Homo sapiens: one gene and its partners. The protein of the gene in region 3 purifies or fractionates together with the protein of the main gene of each other region. This does not show direct contact. Each region holds a gene or a part of one and is shown on either strand. Other genes may lie near its edges.

The links. Proteins that work in one complex are often made in the same cells at the same time.
Region 1: the proteins of SLC22A16 (region 3) and CHCHD6 purify together in Homo sapiens (co-immunoprecipitation; 3 studies listed by BioGRID and IntAct, with this or other methods). This does not show direct contact.
Region 2: the proteins of SLC22A16 (region 3) and RAB21 purify together in Homo sapiens (affinity purification with mass spectrometry; 3 studies listed by BioGRID and IntAct, with this or other methods). This does not show direct contact.

What each region holds. Positions count from the first base shown.
Region 1 is NC_000003.12:126,727,790-126,735,303, reverse strand, and holds part of CHCHD6 (MICOS complex subunit MIC25), read right to left. Parts: intron 4,744-7,514; coding exon 4,674-4,743; intron 2,227-4,673; coding exon 2,082-2,226; intron 1-2,081. UniProt on the Homo sapiens protein: Component of the MICOS complex, a large protein complex of the mitochondrial inner membrane that plays crucial roles in the maintenance of crista junctions, inner membrane architecture, and formation of contact sites to the outer membrane.
Region 2 is NC_000012.12:71,778,413-71,785,926, reverse strand, and holds part of RAB21 (ras-related protein Rab-21), read right to left. Parts: intron 3,897-7,514; coding exon 3,842-3,896; intron 3,358-3,841; coding exon 3,269-3,357; intron 397-3,268; coding exon 254-396; 3' UTR 1-253. UniProt on the Homo sapiens protein: The small GTPases Rab are key regulators of intracellular membrane trafficking, from the formation of transport vesicles to their fusion with membranes.
Region 3 is NC_000006.12:110,473,304-110,481,681, forward strand, and holds the start of SLC22A16 (solute carrier family 22 member 16), read right to left. Parts: upstream 3,311-8,378; 5' UTR 3,272-3,310; coding exon 3,219-3,271; intron 3,150-3,218; exon of another isoform or gene 3,016-3,149; coding exon of another isoform or gene 2,955-3,015; intron 2,360-2,954; exon of another isoform or gene 2,214-2,359; intron 107-2,213; exon of another isoform or gene 1-106. UniProt on the Homo sapiens protein: Facilitative organic cation transporter that mediates the transport of carnitine as well as the polyamine spermidine. Mediates the partially Na(+)-dependent bidirectional transport of carnitine.

The DNA of each region.
Region 1 (7,514 bases), on a different chromosome or scaffold from region 3:
CCTGAGAAAGCGGCGCTCAATCTCCTTTGCAGGAGTAAGAATGGGAAGCTGTGAATTCTTTCACTGTAATTAATACATTCCAGGTGAGAACGAAGAGACAGCAGACCTGTAGGTTGTAATCTTCCACCTCTAGAGGAGGCCAACTTTTCCTGCTCATGCCATACTGATTAACGCGTCATCTCCAGGATAGGGGTCCTTCTTACTTGGTTGTCAGGCTGCCTGCAGAGGGGTAACAACCCATCTGCCTCTCAGAGACTGACTGCAAGAGCCTCTGAAGGCATGCCCTGGCCCCGGTTTCTCACTGCATCAACCGATTCCTCACCAGGATGCCATGGGGTTCTAAAAGCACAAGTCAGATCTCATCACTCCCATCCTTACAAACTTCAGGAACCATTGACTGTTTCAGGATCGATGCGGGCTACTTTGAGGGTTAACTCCTCAGCACATCCAAGGCCTTCTAAAATCCAGCTTCAAACCTCACTCTTCTCACTGGATCCGATCACCTTCTCAACACCTGCCTCTCAGCCCAACTGCCCCTCAGCCTTAAGGCTGAGTTTAATGCCGTCTCTGATCTACCAGCTCTGATCCACCAGCAGCTTATACATTTGCATTTCCAAATCTTTTCTTCAATTTAACAACTACTGTAACCAATCTGGCCTTTTTCAAAGTTCTTAGTTTGTCTTCTCCACAGACTAAAACTTCCCGAGGGCTAGGATCCTACATTGTTTGTATTTCCCAGAGGGCCTGGTTCAAAGTGCATTTATGTGCCTACTGCACACTTCAAACATTTGTGTAGTCATCAAATTAGTAAGCTAAGGCCTGTGCCCAGCCAGCATGTCTGGCCTCCCAGGAGAGCACAATCCCAAATGATGCTTTCACATCGTGTTCAACCCCCTTCTACACAGCACCGTGTGTACGAGGCTACCCACCTAAAGTAGTGCAAGGCTGTTCCTGGTCTCAAACCTCATGGCCTCCAGCAGATGTTATTAGATGCCGCCCACAGCCATGCTTCCCTCCCCCAACTTCCTTGCTGTCAGTCCTAATTCTAGCTGGATATGCAACCTCCCTAATGTGACTAGAAAAGAGCCCTAGCTGCAGTCAGTGGAGCCCTCTGTATCCCCTCTGCTGAGGACTGGCTTAGCCATGGGCACCTGGTACAATTCAAGCCAGTGTGATGTAAGAGGAATTCTGCCAGGAGCTTCTAGGAAAGTTATCCCTGTGATAGAGACACAAGGGTCGGCACAGCCTCTCTTCTTCTACTGAGGGTTTTACTGTCTGCATGGGACTTGTGGGGCAGTAACAGCCTTCATTAACCATGGGGACAGCCTGCCTAGGATGCACTGGCACACTGTGGATGGCAGAGTGGCAGGAAGAGAAGCACCAGGTCCATGATGATGCTAGTGAGCCACTGAATTAGTCAACCCTGGGGGCACTTGAGACTTCTCATGTTGCAAAATAAATGCTGCACTTAAGCAAAAAGATCCTAATAGCCACCCATCACTTAAATGTATTAATGATAACAACAATAGTGCACTCCCATGGTCTGCCAGCATGTGCTAAGTCCTGGACAAATACTATCTCCTCTGATTCCCTGGGCAGTCCTGTGTGTAAACATCACGAACTTCAAGCAAGACTCACAGACAGGGTGTCCAGGATTTGCACCCAACCTGCCTAACTCTAAAGATGATGCCCTCCCTGTCATATATTACATGGCTCCAGGCCTCTAGTCCTCTGCCCTCACACGCTCCTGACACACATACCACTGCAGCCCTGACATCTGTGAAGTTTCAGAGCTAAGTGAGACTGTTGAGTGGTCTGGTCCCTTACTGTGTAGACCTGAGGCCACAGAGACTGCAAAAACATGCCAAAGGCAGCAAAGCAAATCACTGACAGAGCCAGGGCTGGGAGAACCCCAGTTCCTGGCTCCCAAAAGACCCTTTTCCACAGAGGTGAAGCCGAGCACATCCCAGGGGCAGCCTGAGCCAGCAGGGCTTCAGACTAACCAGGTGCCAGGGCCCGCCCCCTATTTCCCAGGGTGCTGCCCAGCTCAGAAGGCCAGATCAGGGAAAATCTGCACTCACCAGCCGGACTGACTTCTGCTCCTCATGGCTGATGCTGCCTTCGCCCGTGGGCAGGGATGCCTTGGAGTGCTTGGTGGCAGCCTCTCTTTCCCTCTTTGCCACCTGGAAGAGCTTATCCTGGATAGCAGCATGCTCCTGTTCATACCTGTGCAGAAGAAACATGAGGAGAAACAGATGTGGATGGCATGACGGGCAGCCCATAGCCAAGACAAGATCTGCGCACTCACTTCAGCCACCAGGGAAATGCTGAAACCAGCCAGCGGCTGGTCAGGAAAGGAGAGAGTGCTGTGAAACCGCATGCCCCATCATTCCACACCCAAGCTCAGGCATCAGTGACAGCTCCCCAGACAAGAGGAGACAATGACACTGAGCCAAGACAACACAGCTCAGGAACAGGAGGAGACCTGGCCAAGTAGGCAGCCCCATGCCCAGTGAGAGTCTCAGGGAGGGGCTCAATCCACGGATTGCCTCCACTTGAGAGCTTGAAGATTTGAGATGGTAGTAGTCCTCTGTTTTGAACATTTAACTCTTCATTCTGAATATCTTCCTACCCTTTGACCTATTTCTGGGCATTCTGCCTAGTAAAATAATCCTATAGAGAATAAAAAAGTTATTAGTGCTGAGATGCTCTTAACAGTATTATTTATTGTAGTGAAAAAAATGCAAGCAACCTAAATGTCCCAAAATCAAGGTCAAGCTAAAGAAAATATGGTGTGATCATATAATGATCTATGACATCATCACTAGAAAATAGTCTTTCATTTGTCTGTAGGTTGAATCTAAAAACTGAGAACCAATAAATGCTTTTAGCAATAAAACTGCTTATAAAGCAGGTGCAACTAATGACAAATCATTATAATACTAAGTGAAAATAGCAAGATATGAAATTATCTATGACATTCAAAAAATAACCCTAAACGGGGGGTGAGGGGACTGGGTGGAGAAGAACATGAAATACTCCAAAATATTAACAGTGGTTGTCTTGAGATGATGAGTCTATGGGTGATTTTTTCACTTTGTATATTTTCTAAATCTTTCATTAGCAGGCATTACTTTACCATTTTTAAAATGTTTAAAAGTACCAAAAAAGCAGGGTTCAGGTTAATAGTTGGCTTTTTTTCCTCTTTTTTTTTTTTTTTTTTTTGGTTTTGGGTCTCACAATGTGGTCCAGGCTGGAGTGCAGTGGTGCAATCATAACTCACTGTAAACTCCAACTTCTGGGCTCAAGCAATCCTCCCACCTCAGCCTCTTGAGCAGCTGGGACTACAGGCATGTGTTACTACCCCCCAGTTAACGTTTTTAATTTTTTTGTAGAGACAGGGTCTCACTATGTTGCCCAGACTGGGCTCAAACTCCTGACTTCAAGCAATCCTCCTGCTTTAGCCTCCTAAATTCACTGGGATTACAGGATTGAGCCACCACACCTGGCCAGGTGAGTTATTCTTGCTAAGACCGATTAGGGAGAGTAAATCTTAGAATGTGGGTCTTAACCCATGGCTATGCAACAGACCCAACATGGCTGAACTACTAGAGGGCAAACGCCCAACCATGGCTGACACTGGGCCCCCTAAGCTGACCCACTGGGTCCTCTGACCATACTGAGGGCAATTTCCTCAAGGATGCTGAAGAGGTCAATCAGTAACAACTACTGTGAGCATCCACTGAGAACTCTGTAGGCCAGGTGCTGTGCTCATGTGCATGATATATATAAACATATTTAACCATGACAAGATCCCAATTAAAGAAGTACTCTTCTTAGCCCTTCTTAGATGCAGTGATATTTCAAGTTCACATAACTAGTAAGTTGCAGGATCAAGATGCCACCCTGTGCTCCACTGGGGCCTCTGTGCCTTAACCACTTTGCTAAAACTTCTCCGGCGACAGGAAGCAGGTCCCATGACAGAGGTGTGGCCAGCTCTTGGGGTCGTGGCCTGTGCTCACAAAGTTACCAACATCCTGGAGCCAGTTCATCTGGACAACCACAGTTAGCACTGGGAGGGCTCCACTTCCTCATCTCTCTAAAAACATGCCTGCATGTGCACACACATGCAGAAGTTCCAGCCACTCAACTGTTTAGTCCTAGCTTTTTTAAATGATTTTTTTTTTTTTTTTTTTTTTTTTTTTAGAGACAGGGTCACCAAGGCTGGAGTTCAGTGGTGCAATCACAGCTCCCTGCAGCCTCAGCTTCCTGAACTCAAGTGATTCTTCCACCTCAGCCTCCCGAGTAACTGGGACTACACAGGCACACACCACCACCCCCAGCTAATTTTTTATCTTTTAGAGACAGGGTCTTGCTATGTTGCCCAGGCTGGTCTCAAACTCCTGGCCTCAAGCAACCCTCCTGCCTTGGCCTCTCAAACTGCTGGGCATGAGGAACATTAACAATCAATTCCCCTATGCCCCTTTTGGTGTTTCTACATCTTTAAACTAGGACCAGTGATACCTATACCATAGGGTTGTCCTTCAATGCAACTGAGATTAATTATGTGAGACAAAGCCTCCAGGGCTTCAGGCAAGGAGAGGGGTACCCAGTGAGGAAAGAGGCTTTTAGGCGGAGCGCAGTGCCGGGAGCAAGCAGGCTCTCGGGCTCACCTCTTGACACCCTCCTTCATCCCTGAGGGCTGCTGGCCACCACTGCTCCCCGACCTGGGCAGTGTGGATTCTGCAAAGGAAAGAGAAGAAAGGGCCTGTCAGTGGCACCCCAGGGTCCACGAAGTCACAGAGGTCACCCAGAGAGGAATGACCCCCATGAATGAATGTGCCCCTTGGAAGGCAGCATCACAGATGTGTCCCCACAAAGGAGCGTCCACAGGGGCAGACAAGGAACACCCTTGATTCAAGCTGTCTGGAAAGCCAGATGATCCAAGCCACCTCTTATCCCGAAGGGGTCTCTGCACCAGGATGCCCACAACACTGGGTGCAGTGTTCCAAACCCATCCCTACTCTCCTGACAATTATTTGGAATCCAGGTCATCTCCTAAGCACAGGCCAGGAGTGGCTGCGGGAAGGTATTGCTTTGCTTCATGAGGACAACCTCCCGGGTAGAGGTTTTGGCATAGGGAAGGGAAGGGGTGGGGGCTCTTTAAATCTTGTTTCCCTTAGTACCCACCTGAGTCTGCACAATCCTCACTGTGGCAAATGCCCCATATTAAACCTAATTCTACTTAACCACTATCGCCTTTAGTATTATTGGGCTCTTTTTGTTGTTACAGTAGGTCCCTTTTGATCATCACGAATTTCGGGATTTCTGAGCAAATCCAATTCACTCTCCCCACCACTTGCTGATACTGAAGGTTTTGTTACTACCCTGTCCCCAGCCTTTACCCTTCCAAAGCTCTCTGTCAGCCAAAGCTCACCACCTTTCTTGGCCTTCTCCGATGTCCCACACCTCCCTCCACCACAGGGTTCTATGCACCAGCAGCCAGAACCACATAGAGCATAACATAAGAACCAGGCTGTGTGAGGCGCTCAATGAGGGTGTGCGACTCCACCCCAGACCCGTCAGGGATCCTTCGGGGGGCACTTCTGAAAGCATCAGCTGTGACTACTCGCACTTTCAAACCACCTCTCATGGGAGGAGAGCACCTCCCATGCTCCTCAGCAACACACCAGGTTCTCAACTGAGGTGAACTCAGGAGCCTGCTGCGGGGTTTCATCTCCACACTAGTGCTCGCCATGCTTATTTATTTGTCTGAAGAGCTTTACTGAGGTTTAATGTCTGGTATTTTTGCTTTTTATATAATTTTCCATTTTTTAACTACAAAAATAACGGGGCTGCCAATGTAGAGCATGTGGCACTCATCCTCACTGCCCTTTCTGTGTGCCCCTGCCCGCTCCCCGCTCCCTTGGAGTGCACATTGTTGAACATGTGTTTCTTTCAGTATTAGTGACGTGGAGATCCTGTCATGAGTATGGCCATCTGTGCACATTTCCTACTGAGTTGTCTTTCTTAAAGATCTTTAAGAACTCGCTACATATTAAGATTACTAGGACTTTGTCAAATGTTATATTTTCCCTAACTTATCCATTCCTGTTACTTCTTTTCTAAATTGTCTAATTTCTTATATTCACATTTCCTATTTTTTTTAATTTAAGGTTTCTTCGTTTAATATGACGTGTAGAAAATCTATCTTCTATTGTACTTTCATGGCTTCAAGCCATACATTTCAATCTTTTATTTCCTCTGACATTTTTGGGGGGTATAGTATGAGAAGAATTTAATTTTAATTTCTTTTTCTAACTTTGTTCCATCACTAAAATAAAGCAAAAACTGGTTTTAAAAGTACAAAATATCTTAAAATTAGTTAACTTTAAGACAGTCCATTTATGCTGACTCTTCAACATTCAGAAACAAAACTTACACCTATCATTTAAACAGCAAAGTACTTTGTTATAATTAACTCCAAGTGACAAAAGAACCACTGTTCTTGCTTTCTAAACTGCTGGAACTTACCAAACTGAAGCAAATGCTTCTTATTTCTTCTAAAGCTGAAACTGATGTGTAGTATTATATATTATGGCAATTTTCGCTTTTATCATCACTTTCTCCCTCTTTCGAGTTAATCCAGTTTGTTAAAGTGCATTGGGTCAAGTTAGACTCCTCTTAAGCCCTTCTCATCAGTTAGTTAGAGCCAGCGTGGGGAGTAAGTGAGCCCTATTAGTAAAGGACAAGGGCTTCTTGGAGGGTTTTCGGGAATCTCACACATCCCCTACAGTGGTAGATATTCAGAAAGATCTTGGGGTGGGTCCAAATCCAGGTGCTGACTGGCTCCTGGGCAATGCTTCTAGGCCCCCGAGCAGGCTGGGATGCACCCTGTCGCCGGACCTCCGCTCCTGCAATCTGCCCATTCGCAGTGCCCACCCACCACCATTCCTCCTGCCTTTCACAGTCCCTCTTCTCCCGTGAGCCTGGTACAGATTCCAGTGTTGCATCACAACATGACACATAACTCATCAGTCTCCATAACCAGAGCCAGGTGTGCCATGAGAGAGGGTCCCTGCCCACCTATCACTGTGTCTTGGCACAGGGCACAGGACTTGGTTCTGGGTGGCCTTCAGTAAACACTAAGTGGGCAGGATACAGCTCTCATATTCTAAACTCTTTCAACCCAACAGGGAAGATGAGTAGAAAAGGCAACTGTAACGCGAGACCAGGCCCAAGAAGAACAATCTAGTGGGTGGTTATCCACCTGAACAGTCGGTCCTTCCGTGGTGGCATGCTGCCTCCAGCCAATCTTTTTTTTTTTTTAATTGAGTTACGGAATCTGATAGACAGACCCAAGTTCTCAAAAACAAGTATGTTTTGAGCAGTTGCTCCAAGGACTTTTTTATTTTGTAATATTTTAACATTTGTATGCCTTAGAACTTTTTTCCTTAAAATTTTATTTCCTTGTGTTTGCTACAAGTCGTTATTTGGGGAAAGCACAAATTTCT
Region 2 (7,514 bases), on a different chromosome or scaffold from region 3:
CCGTCTCAAAAAAAAACAAAAAAAAACAAAAAAAAAACAAAAAAAAACATTTGTAGAAAATGCCAATTCTCTGGTCACAAACTCCACTAAGTTTAGCACTTAAGGTCTCTGCAGTGTTATAAACGTAATTTAAAATACTGTTAATTCTATAATTCCATTGGTAAAATAATGTGACTTGGAATATGGCAGTCTTCATGTTGAGGGCAATGATCCACAGTTTTGTTCTGTCTTTTAATTTCTTAGGCGTGAACAGTTATCCAGAAGAACAGCACCCTCCACCACTGGTCTGGGCTTGAGGTTCATCATCAATAATCTGTACACCTCGCCTTGCAGTTCCCGGCTGACTAGAGCCATTGCCTTTTGCTCTCTCATCCACTTGTGCTGTTTCTATCATCCCTAAGACAGAGAGAAAGCAAACATTATTAGGACCACAATATTTGTGTTTTCTCTTTCTAAAATTTCAGTATAACACTATGATAGCTATTTCTGACTTTCGACCAACAAAGAAACTAAATATAATGAACATTGGGTCAGCTCACTAAAACAGCTTCACCTGCATGTTTTAAAAAACTAGTGTCAAAAACTAGTATCAAGTAGTAAGCTTATTTATCCAGTGGTATAATGGCCACAGTGATATCAATAAAGAAAAAAATTTTTTTGCTCTGAACAATTGCCTGCGTACAAGTATAATCCTTAAGATTTTCCAAACACACTTAGAAATATGTCAAAGAAGTTCAAATTATTCCAAGTAATATTTAGGGGGCAGGATTTATTCTTCAACTAGAAATGTAATACTTTTAAGTAAATGATTCTTTTTATTTTAGTTTTGAGAGACAGGGTCTCGCTTTGATACCCAGGCTGGATGTGCAGTGGTGTGATCATCACTTACTCACTGCAGCCCCTAACTCCTGGGCTCAGTTGATCCTCCTGCCTCAGTCCCTGAGTAGCTGGAATTACAGGTATGCAACACCATGCCTGGCTGAGTTTTTTTTTTTTGCTAGAGATGGGGGTCTCACTATGTTGCCCAGGCTGGTCTCAAACTCCTGGGCTCAAGTGATCCTATGGCCTTGGCCTCATAAAGCACTGGGCTTATAGGTGTGAGCCACTGTCCCTGACCACAGCGATATTTGAAGAATAATGGAGTTTAAGATGAGGGAACTTCGAAGAACACAGCAGAAAGACTCACACCACCTGATTGCAAGAACTAGTATAAAGCTACACTAATCAAAACAGTGAGACAATGATAGGAGAAATAGATCAGTGGAACCAAAAAAACACAGTCCAGAAATAGACCCCGTAGATATGGTCTCTTGATTTTTGACATGGTTGCCAAGGTTATTCAATGAAGAAAGAATATTTTCAAAAAACAGTAGTATTAATAGAACTGGACATCTATTGTAAAAAAAAAAAATCAACCTTAACCCACACCTTAACATCTTATGCAAAAAACAACGAAAAATGAATTATACACTTAAATGTAAGACATGAAACAAAATTTCCAGAAGAAAACACAGGAGAAAAATCTTCATAGGAGAAAATTTTTGTGACTTTGGCTTACACAAAGAGTTCTCATGTAAGACATAAAACATGAATCATAAAAGAAAAATAGATAAACTGGACCTCACTGAAACTTAAAACTGCACTTTAAGAGACACAGGTAAGAAAAATGGGAATACACAACACAGACTGAGAGAAAGTATTTACAAAACACGTATTTGAGAAGATGAAGGAAGAAAAGAGGGTGTCCTTAAAATACAAAAGGGCTCTTAAATTAGAGACTGCTCTTGATTAATGGTTTACAATTTGAGGTATGTGGGACAATCCAACAAGAGGAAATAAGAAAACATTATAAATTCTATATCTACTTATTTTTAACTTTCCAAAATTTCTATTTTTTAGGTATGTTTTAAAATGTACATATTAGTACTTGTACATGTTATATAATTTCTAAATAAACATGTGGAGCATGCAAAAATTGTTTTGAAGATGTGATATTTATAACATTTGTAAGCCACTGACTTAGTGCATTGTTATTTAAAAGCATTATCAGAAGGAAGGAAGGGAGGGAGGGAGGGAGGTAAGGAAGGAGGATATCCTGATGACTAGCATCACCACCACTTGGGTGCTTGTAGAAATGAGGACCTCAATCTATCCCACACCTATTAAATCAAAATATGCATTTAATAAGATCCCCAAGTTGTTATGTACAGCATTGGCTCTTATATTTTAGTGTGCATTGGAATCATATGAAGCGTTTGTTAAAACACAGATTCTGGGCACCATCCCTAGAAATTCTGATTCGGCAGGCTTGGAGAGCCCAAGAATTTGCATTTCTGACATATTTTCAAGTGATATTGATGCTGCTGATCAGGGGACATCACTTACATAATCAATATTTTAGAAGAATTATGAATGACTTGAGGGTTTTATAAAACTAATTTATTCCAAAATGTGTGTGTGTGTGTACACACACACACACATATCAATATTCTTTTCTAGAGAGAAAAACCATGATTTCATCAAATTCTCAAAAGAGTCTAAAGTCCATAAACTCAGATATGCATTTTATTGGTAATATAAGAAATGATTTTCAGAATATATATAAATTTATTTTCCTTTTTCTTTAAAACTATAAACTTTTTAATATGGAAAATTTCAAACATAAAGTAGAAAATACAGCATAATGAAAATCCATCACCCAATTTCATGAATAACCCTAAGCATCCCTACCATTATTTTGAGTCAAATCTCAGACCCATAACTTTATTCCTAAATTATTTTAATGTGTCTTTAAAAGATAAGAACTCCTTTTATAAAGCATAACCACAATACCATAATCACACCTAAAAAATTAATAGTATCTTAATATCATCAAATATCTTGTTTCACAAACACTCTTTTTCACTAGTTTGACAAATCAGTGTCCAAATAAGGTCCATTCATTGCAAGAGGTTGTTACAGGTCTTAAATCTGTTTTAATATGTAAATTCCCCTTCCACTTTTAATACTTATGCATATATTATAATATATATTTAGCCCACACCATACTTATGATTTCATAACCATTAATTACTGCTTGAAACAGGGTTAAAGTAGGTATTTAAGCATTAAAAAAAATAGTTACAGCACTTCAGAAATACTACCAATAGTCAATAGTTTAAAAAGAACCAATTCTTTGAAAAGTAACACTGGTGTAAAATACATACTATTTTTTAAAAAATAAAAACCAAAAACCATTTCTAAACAAACTAAATCTGAATATACCTACTTTTACAAAGGTCAAGAAAGAGTTCCTCAATTCCTTTGTTCTGTTTGGCTGAAGTATGATAATGTTTTGCTCCCACAGATTCTGCATACCTTAAAAAAAAGTAACATCGGTGATTGATGTAAAATATTATTCATGATTTTGTCTTAACTGCTTTTTTATAGTAACAGTTTTAGTGACATATTAATTTACTCAAGTTTAGTGAAATTAAGTTTATATAGCTATTTAAATTCTCTATACATTAAATCAAATTTTAAATAACACAAATATAACAAGCCTCGAAATTTTTATAGATTAATTTGGGACTCAAATACTTCAAAAGTTTTTCTGGCTTACTGCCTATTTGATCATGATAGTTTTGTTTTATATCACTCGTATTTTTCACTGAAGTCAAAAAGGGAAGTAAGGGCTTTATTGCCACAAGCCCAGAAATTACCATGTAAACATGCTTCACTGAATCCAACACCTCAATCCATGCTAAGAGATTTGAGTAATACCTAAATGGTAAAGCAAAACGTATAAAGAGGAAGATTTCTACTAGGGAGTGATGGGGAATGGGAGGGTCACAGTACTTACGACTCTGCTTCTTGAATGGAAACATGTCTCTCCTTTTCCAAGTCTATTTTATTACCTATTTTGAAAAAAGTAAATATTTATCTTTATACTGATTTATTTTCATAACAAAATTAAGCCAATTCTAAATATAAAATTGCCATTTTAATTACCAGCAAAAATAATGCAAATCCCCACCAGACTTCTAATGTCTTGAAATTATAAAGTTAAGCCTTGTGATCTGAGGGTTGATCATGCCTCATCCTCCTTCAAATGACTCAATTCATACCTTTCCTGAATCTGCAGCCTCTGACAAAGAAAACAACTTTTCCAAAGAGACAGGCACTCTTTTTTGATTTTGGGGGATACCAGAGACCTAGAGATAAACCTATGATTCTTAGGCAAGTGTAAATGATCAAAAGTAAGAGCAAAATTTTCTACAGTTCCCATTAACTTAGAGCCGGTCAATAAGTATGGCTATCTTAGTGTTTACTAAAATATATTAATCTAGCCTCTTGGATCCTACAAGTATTTTGGTTTCCTGGATGATATAAACCAGTTAAAGTAAAAATTAAAGTGTACAGATTTTTAAGTACTCCACAATCATAAGGGGAAAAACTGTATTCTCTTTTTTTTTTTTTTTGACGGAGTCTCGCTCTGTCACCCAGGCTGGAGTGCAGTGGCGCCATCTCGGCTCACTGCAAGCTCCGCCTCCCGGGTTCACGCCATTCTCCTGCCTCAGCCTCCTGAGTAGCTGGGACTACAGGTGCCTGCCACCACGCCTGGCTAATTTTTTGTATTTTTAGTAGAGATGGGGTTTCACTGTGTTAGCCAGGATGGTCTCGAACTCCTGACCTCGTGATCCGCCTGCCTCGGCCTCCCAAAGTGCTAGGATTACAGGCTTGAGCCACCGCGCCCGGCCGGAAAAACTGTATTCTTTGTTTAAAAAACAATTTTAGTGAGTTATTAAAACTTAATATATGTATATCATGCAGATTTAAATTATAAGTTTAGCTCTCCTTAAACAACAGAACCAAGCTGGGATTATACTTTTAAAAAAAGCCATCAGAACAAAAATGAAGAAACTGCAAAATACTGATTCCTTGAACTTAAGATGAGTTGGCTGGACACCCAGAGTGCTAAAGGTAATAAAAACAGTAGATAACGATAAGGAAAAATACCCTATGGAAGGACACTTCAAACAAACATTTTTATTCTTCTACTATGGCTTTTAGGGAGAAAAGAGAAATCTTATAAATAAGGTTACTTTTTTTCTTGGAACCATATAGATTCTAGGAGACAATTTCAGATAAATTTCAGATAAGGCATTGAAATAAGCACCCAATAAAAGATAAAATGTTTAGCACTGAGGTGGACAAGTCCAAAGGTTCTATATACTGAGGACCTCGAATAATCTGAGAACCTAGTTGCTGGCAACTGCAAGAAACTATCTGCCACCATAGCCTAAGAATCAGAGAGAGGGAAGCAGACAACACTAAAGCTCAGTGGATACCAACAAATTCAGTAACAAACTCTTCCTTCTTTGAACAGCTATCTACCACAGCAAGAAGTTTCATATTAGTTCTAACTTCCTACATTATATTTGTCATTGGAAATTTTAATTAGCTAAATATGACAATGTCTGACAGTAACCAGAGGAAAAACCGTCGTGTTATTCTGTAAAGAATGCAAAAAGCACCACCTGGTGGCCAGTGGCTCCAACAAACAGGAAAAAGATTCTGCCTCACAAAGGCAAAATAAGATAGTCTCCTACTAAAAGTAGCAATATTAATTTTGCTTCAATTACCTAAAACCCTATGGAATTTTTTTCTAGGTATTTAATGGCTCATGTTCCAAATTCCATCAATATCATCAATACCTATAAAAAGAGTGAAGAGAGGAAAAGCAGGCAATCACCTTACTGCCTCAAATGAACATTTAGGAGAAATAATTCAGACACTGCTTTATTATTTGATAATATTTTAAATGACTAATTTTAATAAATCAGGCCATTAATAAATAGCTATCTTAATAACCTATTATTTTAAACTTAAAATATTTTAAATCTAAATAACTATTATTTCTTTGAATAATCAGTGTTCACAATGGATTGACAGCACAGAATACATTGCAGAAACCTGACTGGCTAGTGACTGACCTCTTTCCAAAGCTCAAAAACCCTTTTAGTTTCTATATTTTTTCAAAAGCAAGACAGCTAAGGAGTAAGGCTTTGAGACTCATATCTGCTTCAATACTACTGTGCAGCTACATACGGAACTTTCTGATAGGCTTAAAACACCTGAAAACAAGGACAATAACCAAAGCAAGCACCTACTTAAAAGTATAGTACTATAAAGAATTAAAAACATAAACAAATAGGCTGACACTATTGGAAAGGGAGGGAAAAAGCTACCCTCTAAGTTAAGCAGATCTTCCTTAAAAATACATATTTGAATTAAGAACATAGAAGGGGCATGTCCACTGCTAAGGGCAAATGGCCTAATGATATAGAACTAGAATCATATTATGCTTAGACTGAATGGTTGTGGGGCACAGTGGAAAGAAGCTTTCAGAAAGCTTTTAAATGTGATAAAACTTGTTTTTAAGTCCTTGCTTACTCCATAACTGTAATTTTTTTTTTGTTTTACCTTTTTTTGAGACAGGGTCTTGCTCTGTCACTCAGGTTGGAATGCAGTGGCGTGAACACGGCTCTCTGCAGCCTCCACCTCCCGGGCTCAAGCGATTCTCCTGCCTCAGCCCCGAGTGGGACTACAGGCACACACCACCGCATCTGGCTAATTTTTGTATTTTTTTGTAGAGATGGGGTTTTGCCATGTTGCTAGGCTGGTCTCAAACTCCTGGACTCAAGCAGTCTGCCCACCTTGGTCTCCCTAAATGCTCGGATTAAAGGCCAGAGTCACCACGCCTGGCCATAACTGTAATATTTTGGACAAATTAGTTAACCTCTGTTAGTCTCACTGTACGCATGTGTCGCTAACAAACCTTGCAGGGTTGATGTGAAAATAAGATATATGTAAAAGGCCTAGCATATACTATATGCTCAATAAGGAACAGTTATTAATATTAATGACATTCATCACAGTGAATGATCAAATGGAAAGTCAATATTGTTGTAAGACAATTAAAGTCCATGACAGGTAATACAAACTTACTCCTGACCTCAAATGATCCGCCTGCTTCAGCCTCCCAAAGTGCTGGGATTACAGGGGTGAGCCACCACGCCTTGCAGGTAACGCACTCTACCATCATCCTACTGGCTTCATCTAGCTAACTTAGTTTATCCAACACTTGGTCTAGGAAATGTTCCCTTATCTCCCCCTTGCACCCCAAATCTAGTTTGTTTGCTTTTGTGCTCTCATAGCACTCCATTCTGCATTTCCCTTCCATAGCATTTATTATAACATATAATAGTAGCTTGTTTTCCTCTCTTTTTCCACACAAGAGACTCTGGGAGGACAAGAACCGTATCTATTTTGTTTACTTATTCACTACACTATTCCCAAAGCCTGGCACATAGTAAGCAATGAAGTGTTTATTAAGGATATGGGCTTGAAGTGGCAGGCAGATCTGAGTTAAAATCCCAGGTCTACTTCTAACAAACTATGTGACTTTGGGAAGTTTCAAGGTCTCTAAGCACATTTTTTCATCTGTAAAATGAAATGGTCTTCCCCTCAGC
Region 3 (8,378 bases):
TCTCCTCTTAACCCAGGACAACTAACTCAGGGATCCAGGTTCAGATCCTCCCAACACAGGTGCCTAAATTTCAGTCTTCTCAATTTCTTTTCATATGGAGCTTAAGCTGTGAAGTTTATGGAAACGATATGGTTTCAGGAGAAATCCTGGAATGGTATTTTAGTTCTTCTCAGGTATCCTGTTTTCCCTTTTTTTTTTTTTTTTTTTTTTTTTTTTTTTTTTTTTTTTTTTTTTTTTTTGAGACGGAATCTCGTTCTGTCGCCCGGGCTGGAGTGCAGTGGCGCAATCTCGGCTCACTGCAAGCTCTGCCTCCTGGGTTCACGCCATTCTCCTGCCTCAGCCTCCCAAGTAGCTGGGACCACAGGCCCCCGCCACCATGCCAGGCTCATTTTTTTGTATTTTTAGTGGAGACTTGGTTTCACTACATTAGCCAGGATGGTCTCGAGCTCCCGACCTCGTGATCTGCCTGCCTCAGCCTCCCAAAGTGCTGGGATTACAGGCATGAACCACCGCACCTGGCCTGTTTTCCCCTTTTAAAGGTGACTAGAATAGTGCTTCCTTATTCTAGAAATGACCAATGAGAAATGAGAGGTAATCAGGGTTCTCTACTGTAGGGGTCCCAAAGCCCCAGGCCATAGACCAGACTGGTCCATGGCCTGTTAGAAACTGGACCACACAGCAGGAGGTGAGCAGCGGCCAGCGAGCATTACTTCCTAAGCTCCACCTCCTGTCAGATCAGCGGCGGCATTAGATTCTCATAGGAACGTGAACCCCATTGTGAACTGCACATGCGAGGGATCTAGGCTGAGTGCTCCTTATGAGAATCTAATGCCTGATGATCTGAGGTGAAACAGTTCCATCCTGAAACCATCCTCCCGACCCCACCACAGGTCTGTGGAAAAAATATCTTCCACGAAACCAGTCCCTGGTGCTAAAAAGGTTAGGGACCAGGTCTGTGGAAAAAATGTCTTCCACAAAACCAGTCCCTGGTGCTAAAAAGGTTGGGGACCACTGCTCTACTTAACACTTTCACTAGGATCCCTTAAAGAGAGGACTAAATAATCATCACAATAACTTTCCTTTCTGTTTATAAAGAATAGATACCAATTAGAACAAATACCTGAGAAAAATGTGGTACTGTGTTGCAGTCACACAGTCTTCATCTTCTGCTATATAAGCAGTGGTTTGTTACCCTTTTCCCTCCTGTAAGCTGCTTTCACGAGTCAACCCTGACCACCAATATGGGAACTCAGGTAATGATAATAGCCATGACTTATTGAGAACTTACTGAATAATAAGACTTTTGCATACATTATGGTGGCCAGCTAAGAGCTGTCTCCTCAAACCCATTTGCCCCCTCTTCACCGTAGTGAGCTGTCACCATGGGTGCGCAGCTGCTCCAGGCACAGACAGGGAGCCCCATGCAGTGGATGACAGAGCTGTCCCACCTGCCAGGGTCCTTGAATGGTCTCGTGGCACAGATCCTGCTGTGGGCAGTTACTGGAGAGGCATAAACTTCCATTTGAGGAATCTGTTTGATTGGGCACTTTAGTCAAACACCAACTAATATAATTACCTCAGCTAATCCCTAAAAAACACAGGGGAACTAAGATGTAAGTACCACCTACCTCATTGAGTTACTGTAAGGATGAGAAACTGCATGCAGAGTCCTCATATACACATTTTCACTACTCCTATTTGAAAACATTTGTACTATTATTAGCCCCATTTTACAGATAAGAAAGTGGTAAATAAAATGCTCAAGACCGTATAGTTAATGTGTGGTAGCGCCAGAGTGGGAACTTAGACATCCAGCCTTAAAACTGATCTTTTAACCTCTGTGCTATTCTGCTTCCAGAAGGATGAAATGAGATCATACATAAAGAGCTTGGCCCAGCTGAGGAGCCGTCACCTAACCGTGCTCAGGAGTGCATCATGGTTGAGAGTGTGGGCTGTGGAGGTGATGGGCATCCAATGGCATCCAATTCTGCCCTGCTAGTATTAGATTTGTGCTTAGGCAGAAACCTTGGTTTTCTCATCTGTGAAAAGAGGGTGATACTACCAACCTTATAAGGCTGTAGTGAAGATTAAAGGAAGTAACATGTACCAACGGCTTATGACCGAGCCAGGCACAAGGCAGCGTTCAATGATGCAAGCAGAGGAAGAAGGGAACAGCTGGGGCTTCCTGCCCGTTTCCTCTGTCCTAACAGCTCCTTTTTGCAGACACTGGGAATCAAAACCAAAACGCATGCAACCTTCCACCTTGAAGAACAGCACCACATCATCTCTTTGCTAAGCCTGATTCCCGTTTTCTGGATAGGAAACTGACACACAAAGTATCTCCAGAATCATATCAGAGGTAAGTAGCAGGCCAGGATCGAGACGCAGCTCCAAATCTCCGGCCATAACGCTGCATGGCCCCTCACCCGGCTACCTCCCCTCTCAAAACACTCTGAGTCAGATAGAGGAGCTCTGTCCATGAGTGAACGAACGAATGAATAATTTAAATTTTTTAAATCAATTTGACAAATGAAAAGAGGGTGTACGGAGGTTAAACGTGGTTCCACCATGCGTTGGCTATGAGTCCTTGACCCCGCCAGCTTGTTTCCCAATCACTAAAATAAGGATTTGAACACCTCCTTTGCAGGGTCCCGGTGAACATCAAATGAAGAACTATGTGTAAGCGCCAGGTACAGTGTACCTGGCACGTATTAGGTTTTAATAAACGGCAACCAACTCTGACTAACGGTTGTCCCTGGGGAACACCTGCCAGGCACAGAGGGAGGCCCTACGGAGGCGCAGGGCAGAACTGGGCAGCAGCCGTCTAGGGAAGTGGCGGCGGATTAGAGAAACGGGCGGCCAGGCACAGGCACCCCCTACGAGTGAGATCTGGCCCCTCGAGCCAGATCTCCAGCCAGATGCCTCCAGCATCTGCTGCCGCGGAGAGCACGCACCAGGTCCCTCCTGCCCGGCAACAGGCGCACTCCGAGCGAGCCCAGCGCCTCTGCTCACCATGCCAGGTCCCGCTGCCAGAGGCCTAGAGGAGAAGCCCAGCTAGGGGCCGGCGTCTGGACGCCCGTGTCCCGACTGCGCGGGGTGAGGAGGAAGTGGAGATGTTTTCGGATCGCGAGCGCCGCGCGAGAACCCCGCCGCAACGGAAAGAAACAGACCCCTCGGCGCCGCCTCCCGCGTGGCGCCGCGGGGCCCCTCCCCCATACCTGCCGAAGTGCCCCACGTGGTCATAAATCCCCTCGAAGTGGCGGGACCCCATGGTGCGGCCGTGCACTGGGCGCCGAGTTAGCCGAGCTCCGGGGACTGCGGGTAGCGCGCCCCGCCCCGAACCTCCCCGCCCGGCCTCCTGCTCTCCCCGCGCGTCCCAGTGCTCGGGACCAGCGCGAGGCTGTATTCTGTTCCTCCCTCCGTCGCTTGGCCCCTCGGTCCCCCCAAGTATCTTCGGCTTTTTTCCTGCCGCCTCGGCCTCCTTCCCGGCGCGCTGTGGTCCCGGCGCCCGCGGTCGCATGGTGCCCTCGCCCCCAGCGCCGCCGCTCTCCCACCCGCCCCGCCGCCCACCCTGGCTCTTGGCACCATGTCTGCGGGGTCGCCACGCTCGAGGGAAGCCCCGACGCCTGGGAAAAGTTGTCGCTGAGAGAGAGCCCAGGGTGGGAATGCAAGGGCTAGGCTCGGTCCGGGGGCCGCAAGAATATATAGCCTTCAGCATGACGCCCCTCAGAAACATGGCTCTCAAACTTTAATGCCTAAGAATCTACTGCAGAACTTGGTTTAAAAGGTACATTTAAGGCCGGGCGCACTTGCTCACGCCTGTAATCCCAGCACTTTGGGAGGCCGAGGCGGGCGGATCACCTGAGGTCGGGAGTTCAAGACTAGCCTGACCAACATGGAGAAACCCCGTCTCCACTAAAAATACAAAATTAGCCGGGCGTGGTGGCACATGCCTGTAATCCCAGCTACTCGGGAGGCTGAGGCAGAAGAATCGCTTGAACCCTGGAGACGGAGGTTGCGGTGAGCCAAGATCGTGCCATTGCACTCCAGCCTGAGGAACAAGAGTGAAACTCCGTCTCAAAAAAATAAAAGTACAATTAGGCCGGCGTGGTGGCTCAGGCCTATAATCCCAGTGCTTTGGGAGGCCGAGGCAGGAGGATTGCTGGAGCCAAGGAGTTTGAGACCAGCCTGGGCAACGTATAGCGACACCTCGTCTATACAAAAATAAAAAATAAATAAATGTACATTTATTTTGAGACTCCATCCCTGATGATTCAGGATGCCTGGGGAACAGGAATCTGATTTTTTTTTTTTTTTTTTTTTTTTTTTTTTTTTTTTTTTTTGAGACGGAGTCTCGCTCTGTCGCCCAGGCTGGAGTGCAGTGGTGCAATCTCGGCTCACTGCAAGCTCCACCTCCCGGGTTCAAACCATTCTCCTGCCTCAGCCTCCCAAGTAGCGGGGAGGTGCCCGCCACCACGTCCGGCTAATATTTTGTATTTTTAGTAGAGACGGGGTTTCACCGTGTTAGCCAGGATGATTTCGATTTCCTGACGTCGTGATCCGACCGCCTTGGCCTCCCGAAATCTGATTTTTAATAAGCAGACCATGGCATTCCAAGCCACACTTTGGAGTGGGCAGGGGTTTGGCCCATAGCCAACCCAGGCAGGGGGTGACCTTCCTTCTGGAAGGTATCAAGTGAATGAACTTTAGGGAAGAAAGGTCAATTGCTGGTCCACAGCGCTGAAGCAGAAAAGCCAGTTTCCGACTATATCCACAGTGAGAGTTGCCTTCTCTAGTCAGCCTGGCAGTCACTGGCCCCACTGTTGGCGTGCTATTCCACTCTATAAGGCCACTAAACCTTGAGTTCCTAGAGAACAGGGATGCATTCTCTTCGTCACTTTGGTAGCCTCAGTTCCATAGCAAATGCCCTCTCTCTGAACTTCTCCACCTCATCCTTAAAATCTGAGCACACCTATCGCTTTCTCAGAGAAGTCCAACAGTTTGAGGGCCAGGGCAGAGCTCTACCAGAGCAGAGCATCAAGAGTGGGTCTGATGGCTCCGAGAAGCGGCAGGATCTTGCAAGGCTGTGTTGAACATTTTACTTTGACCAAAGGACAAGGAGAACTCCCTGTAGACAGTCTTAAAGCAGAAGAGTAACAGGCGCAAACTTGTACTTGAATAATATTTGAAAGAGAGGAGAGTCCATTTCCCAAAGTGCTTCCCTCCCCTACTTGTCACAGAGCCTACAATAACACCATTAAAAATTGACTTATTTTTGTTATGCACAATCCTATCTAGACATTCTCTTCTGAAACATAAATACTCTTGGAAGGACTAATCCCTTAAGTAATAAACAACTTGGAGAGGGTTTTTAAATTAGATAGTTTCCTGCTAACTAAAGAGACTTAAGAAAGCCTAAGTTCTTCAGGTGAGGAATGCTAGAGGGATACAAGGTGGGGGGAAGATGAGAGGGTAGTGAGGAGTAGTTATGTCAAGGGCTGAGCCTAGGAGGAAAGGTGGGGGCCATGGCAGCCAGTCAAGACGCCATATTGCTTCAAAGCACCAAAGGGAGAGTTACCTGGAAAAGATATGGAGAAATTGAACTTTGATATGAACACTATTCTTATTACACCAGATAGAAATGTCACAATATGGATAAAATGGACAAATTACTGAAAAATACAATCTAACAACACTCAAGAAGAAATAGATAACCAAAATAGGCCTACATCTATTAAAGAAATTGAATATGCAATTAAAAACCTTCTGATATAGTTTGGATGTTTGTCCTCTCCAAATCTCGTGTTGAAATGTAGTCCCTAATGTTGGAGGTGGGGCCTGGTGGGAGGGGTTTGGATCATGGATCCTTCATGAATGTCTTGGTGCCATCCTCCCCAGTAATGAGTGAATTCTCAGTTATGAGTTCACACAATATCTGGTTGTTTGAAAGAGTCTGGAACTTCCTCCTCCTTCTCTCTTGTTCCTTCTCTCACCATGTGATTCAGGGACCGCTTCATCTTCTGCCATGACTGGAAGCTTCCTGAGGCCCTCAACAGAAGCAGATGCTGGCACTATGCTTCATGTACAGCCTACAGAACCATGAGCCAAATAAATCTCCTTTCTTTATAAATTATCCAGTCTCAGGTATTCCTTTATAGCAATGCAAATAGACTAACACATGTTTCCACAAAGAAAACCCCAGGGTTGGCCACGTGCAGTGGCTCACACCTGTAGTCCTAACACTTTAGGAGGCTGAGGCAGGAGGATCGCCTGAGTCAAGGAGTTTGAGACCAGCCTGGGCAACATGGTGAAACCTCATCTCTATAAAAAATGCAAAACATTTGGCCAGGCATCATGGTGCACGCCTGTTATCCTAGCTACTTGGGAGGCTGAGGTGGGAGGATTACTTGAGCCTGGAAGGTCGAAGCTGCAGTGAGCCGTGACTGGGCCACTGCACTCCAGCCTGGGTGACACAGTGAGACCCTGCCTCAAAAAAAAGAAAAAAGAAAAAGAAAAGAAAGAAAGCCCCAGAGTCAGACATTTAAGGTAGAAATAATATTGATTCTGCACAAACTGTTCAAGGAAGTTGAAGATGAGTGAATACGTCCCAAATCACTGAATGGTCCAGCATTACTCTGACATCAAAACCAGGTAAAGACCTTACAAGGCAAGAAAACTATACACCAATATACCTATATGAACATAGATGCAATAATTCTCAACAAAACTTTAGCAAATTGGATGTCTCTTTATATTTAAAAGGACAAGTACATCATGAGCACATGAGATTTATCACAAGAATGCAAGAGTGATTTAACATCTGAAAATCAAGCAATATAATTTACCATACTAACAGACCATATGAAAAAACATGATTATCCCAGTCAATGCAAAAAACACATTTGGGAGAAGCCAACACCTTTTCATAATAAAAACACTGAACAAACTAAGAATAGAAGGGAATTACATCCATCTCATAAAGGGCATCTCCAAAAAACAACCCATAGCTAACAGTATACTTCATGTGAAAGACTGTATGTTTTCTCCCTAAGATTGGGAACTAGACAAAGATGTCTGTTCTCACTGCTTCTATTCAGCTTTGTATGGGGGGTTCTAACCAGAGCATTAGGTGGAAAAAAAGGCATTCAGATTGAAAAGGAAGAAATAAAACTGTGTTTATTCACAGATGACATGGTCAAATATAGAGAAAATCTGATGGAATCTATTTTTAATAGCTACTAGAATAAGTGATTTTAGCAAAGTTACAGGATATAAGATTAATATACAACAGTCTACTGTATTTCTATATACTAGTAAGGAACAATTAGAAATTGGAATTTTTTAAATACTGTTTTCTTCTTTTTTTTTTTTTTTTTTTTGATATAGGGTCTTACTGTGTTGTCCAGGCCGGACTGCAGTGGAATGATCATAGTCCACTGCAGCCTCAACCTCCTGGGCTCAAGTGATCCTCCCACCTCAGCCTCCTGAGTATTTGTGACTTCAGGCATGCACCACCATGCCCAGCTAATTTTGTAAATTTTTATTTATTTTTTCTTTTTTCCCCTCTTTTGTAGAGAACACGGTCTCGCTATATTGCCCAGGCAGGTCTCAAACTCCTGGGCTTAAGCTATACCCCACCTTTGCTTCCCTAAATGATAGGATTACAGGCATGATCCACTATGCTTGGCTATTTTTATTTCTTTTGTAAAGTGGAGGTCTCACTATGTTGCCTAGGCTGATCTTGAACTCCTAGGCTCAAGCAATCCTCCTATCTCAGCCTCCCAAAGCCATGCTGGGATTACAGGCATGAGCCACCAGGCCCAGCCTAAAATACCATTTTCAATAACACTTAAAATATACTTAGGGATAAATCTGACAAAAATGTGCAAGATCTGTAAACTGAAAACTAGGTATGAACATGTATTGTGCAACTTGCTCTTTCCCTTGAACATCTGTTTGTGAAATTCATCCATATTGATACATGCAGCTCTAATCCATTCTTTTTCATTGCTACATAGTATTCCATTGTCTCAATAAACCACAATTTACTTAATCATTTTCTTATTGATGGACAGGCAGGTTATAGCCAAAATCTTACTACAGCACCATTGCTATAAACTGTCCCTCTGTACATATTTGTGAGTTTTTCTAAGGTATATCTCCAGGAGTTGCTGTGTTATATGTATACCCTATAACACAACAACCCCTGGAAAACTGCTTAGAAAAACTTAAAATATTAAATATTGCCAAATTGCTTTCTAAAGTGATTATAACAATTTACCTTCCACTCAAGAGAGTATAAAAGTTCTAATGTCCCCACATCTTTGCCAATACTTGGATCATCACACTCTTAAAGATTAGTCCATTAAAGAGATGTA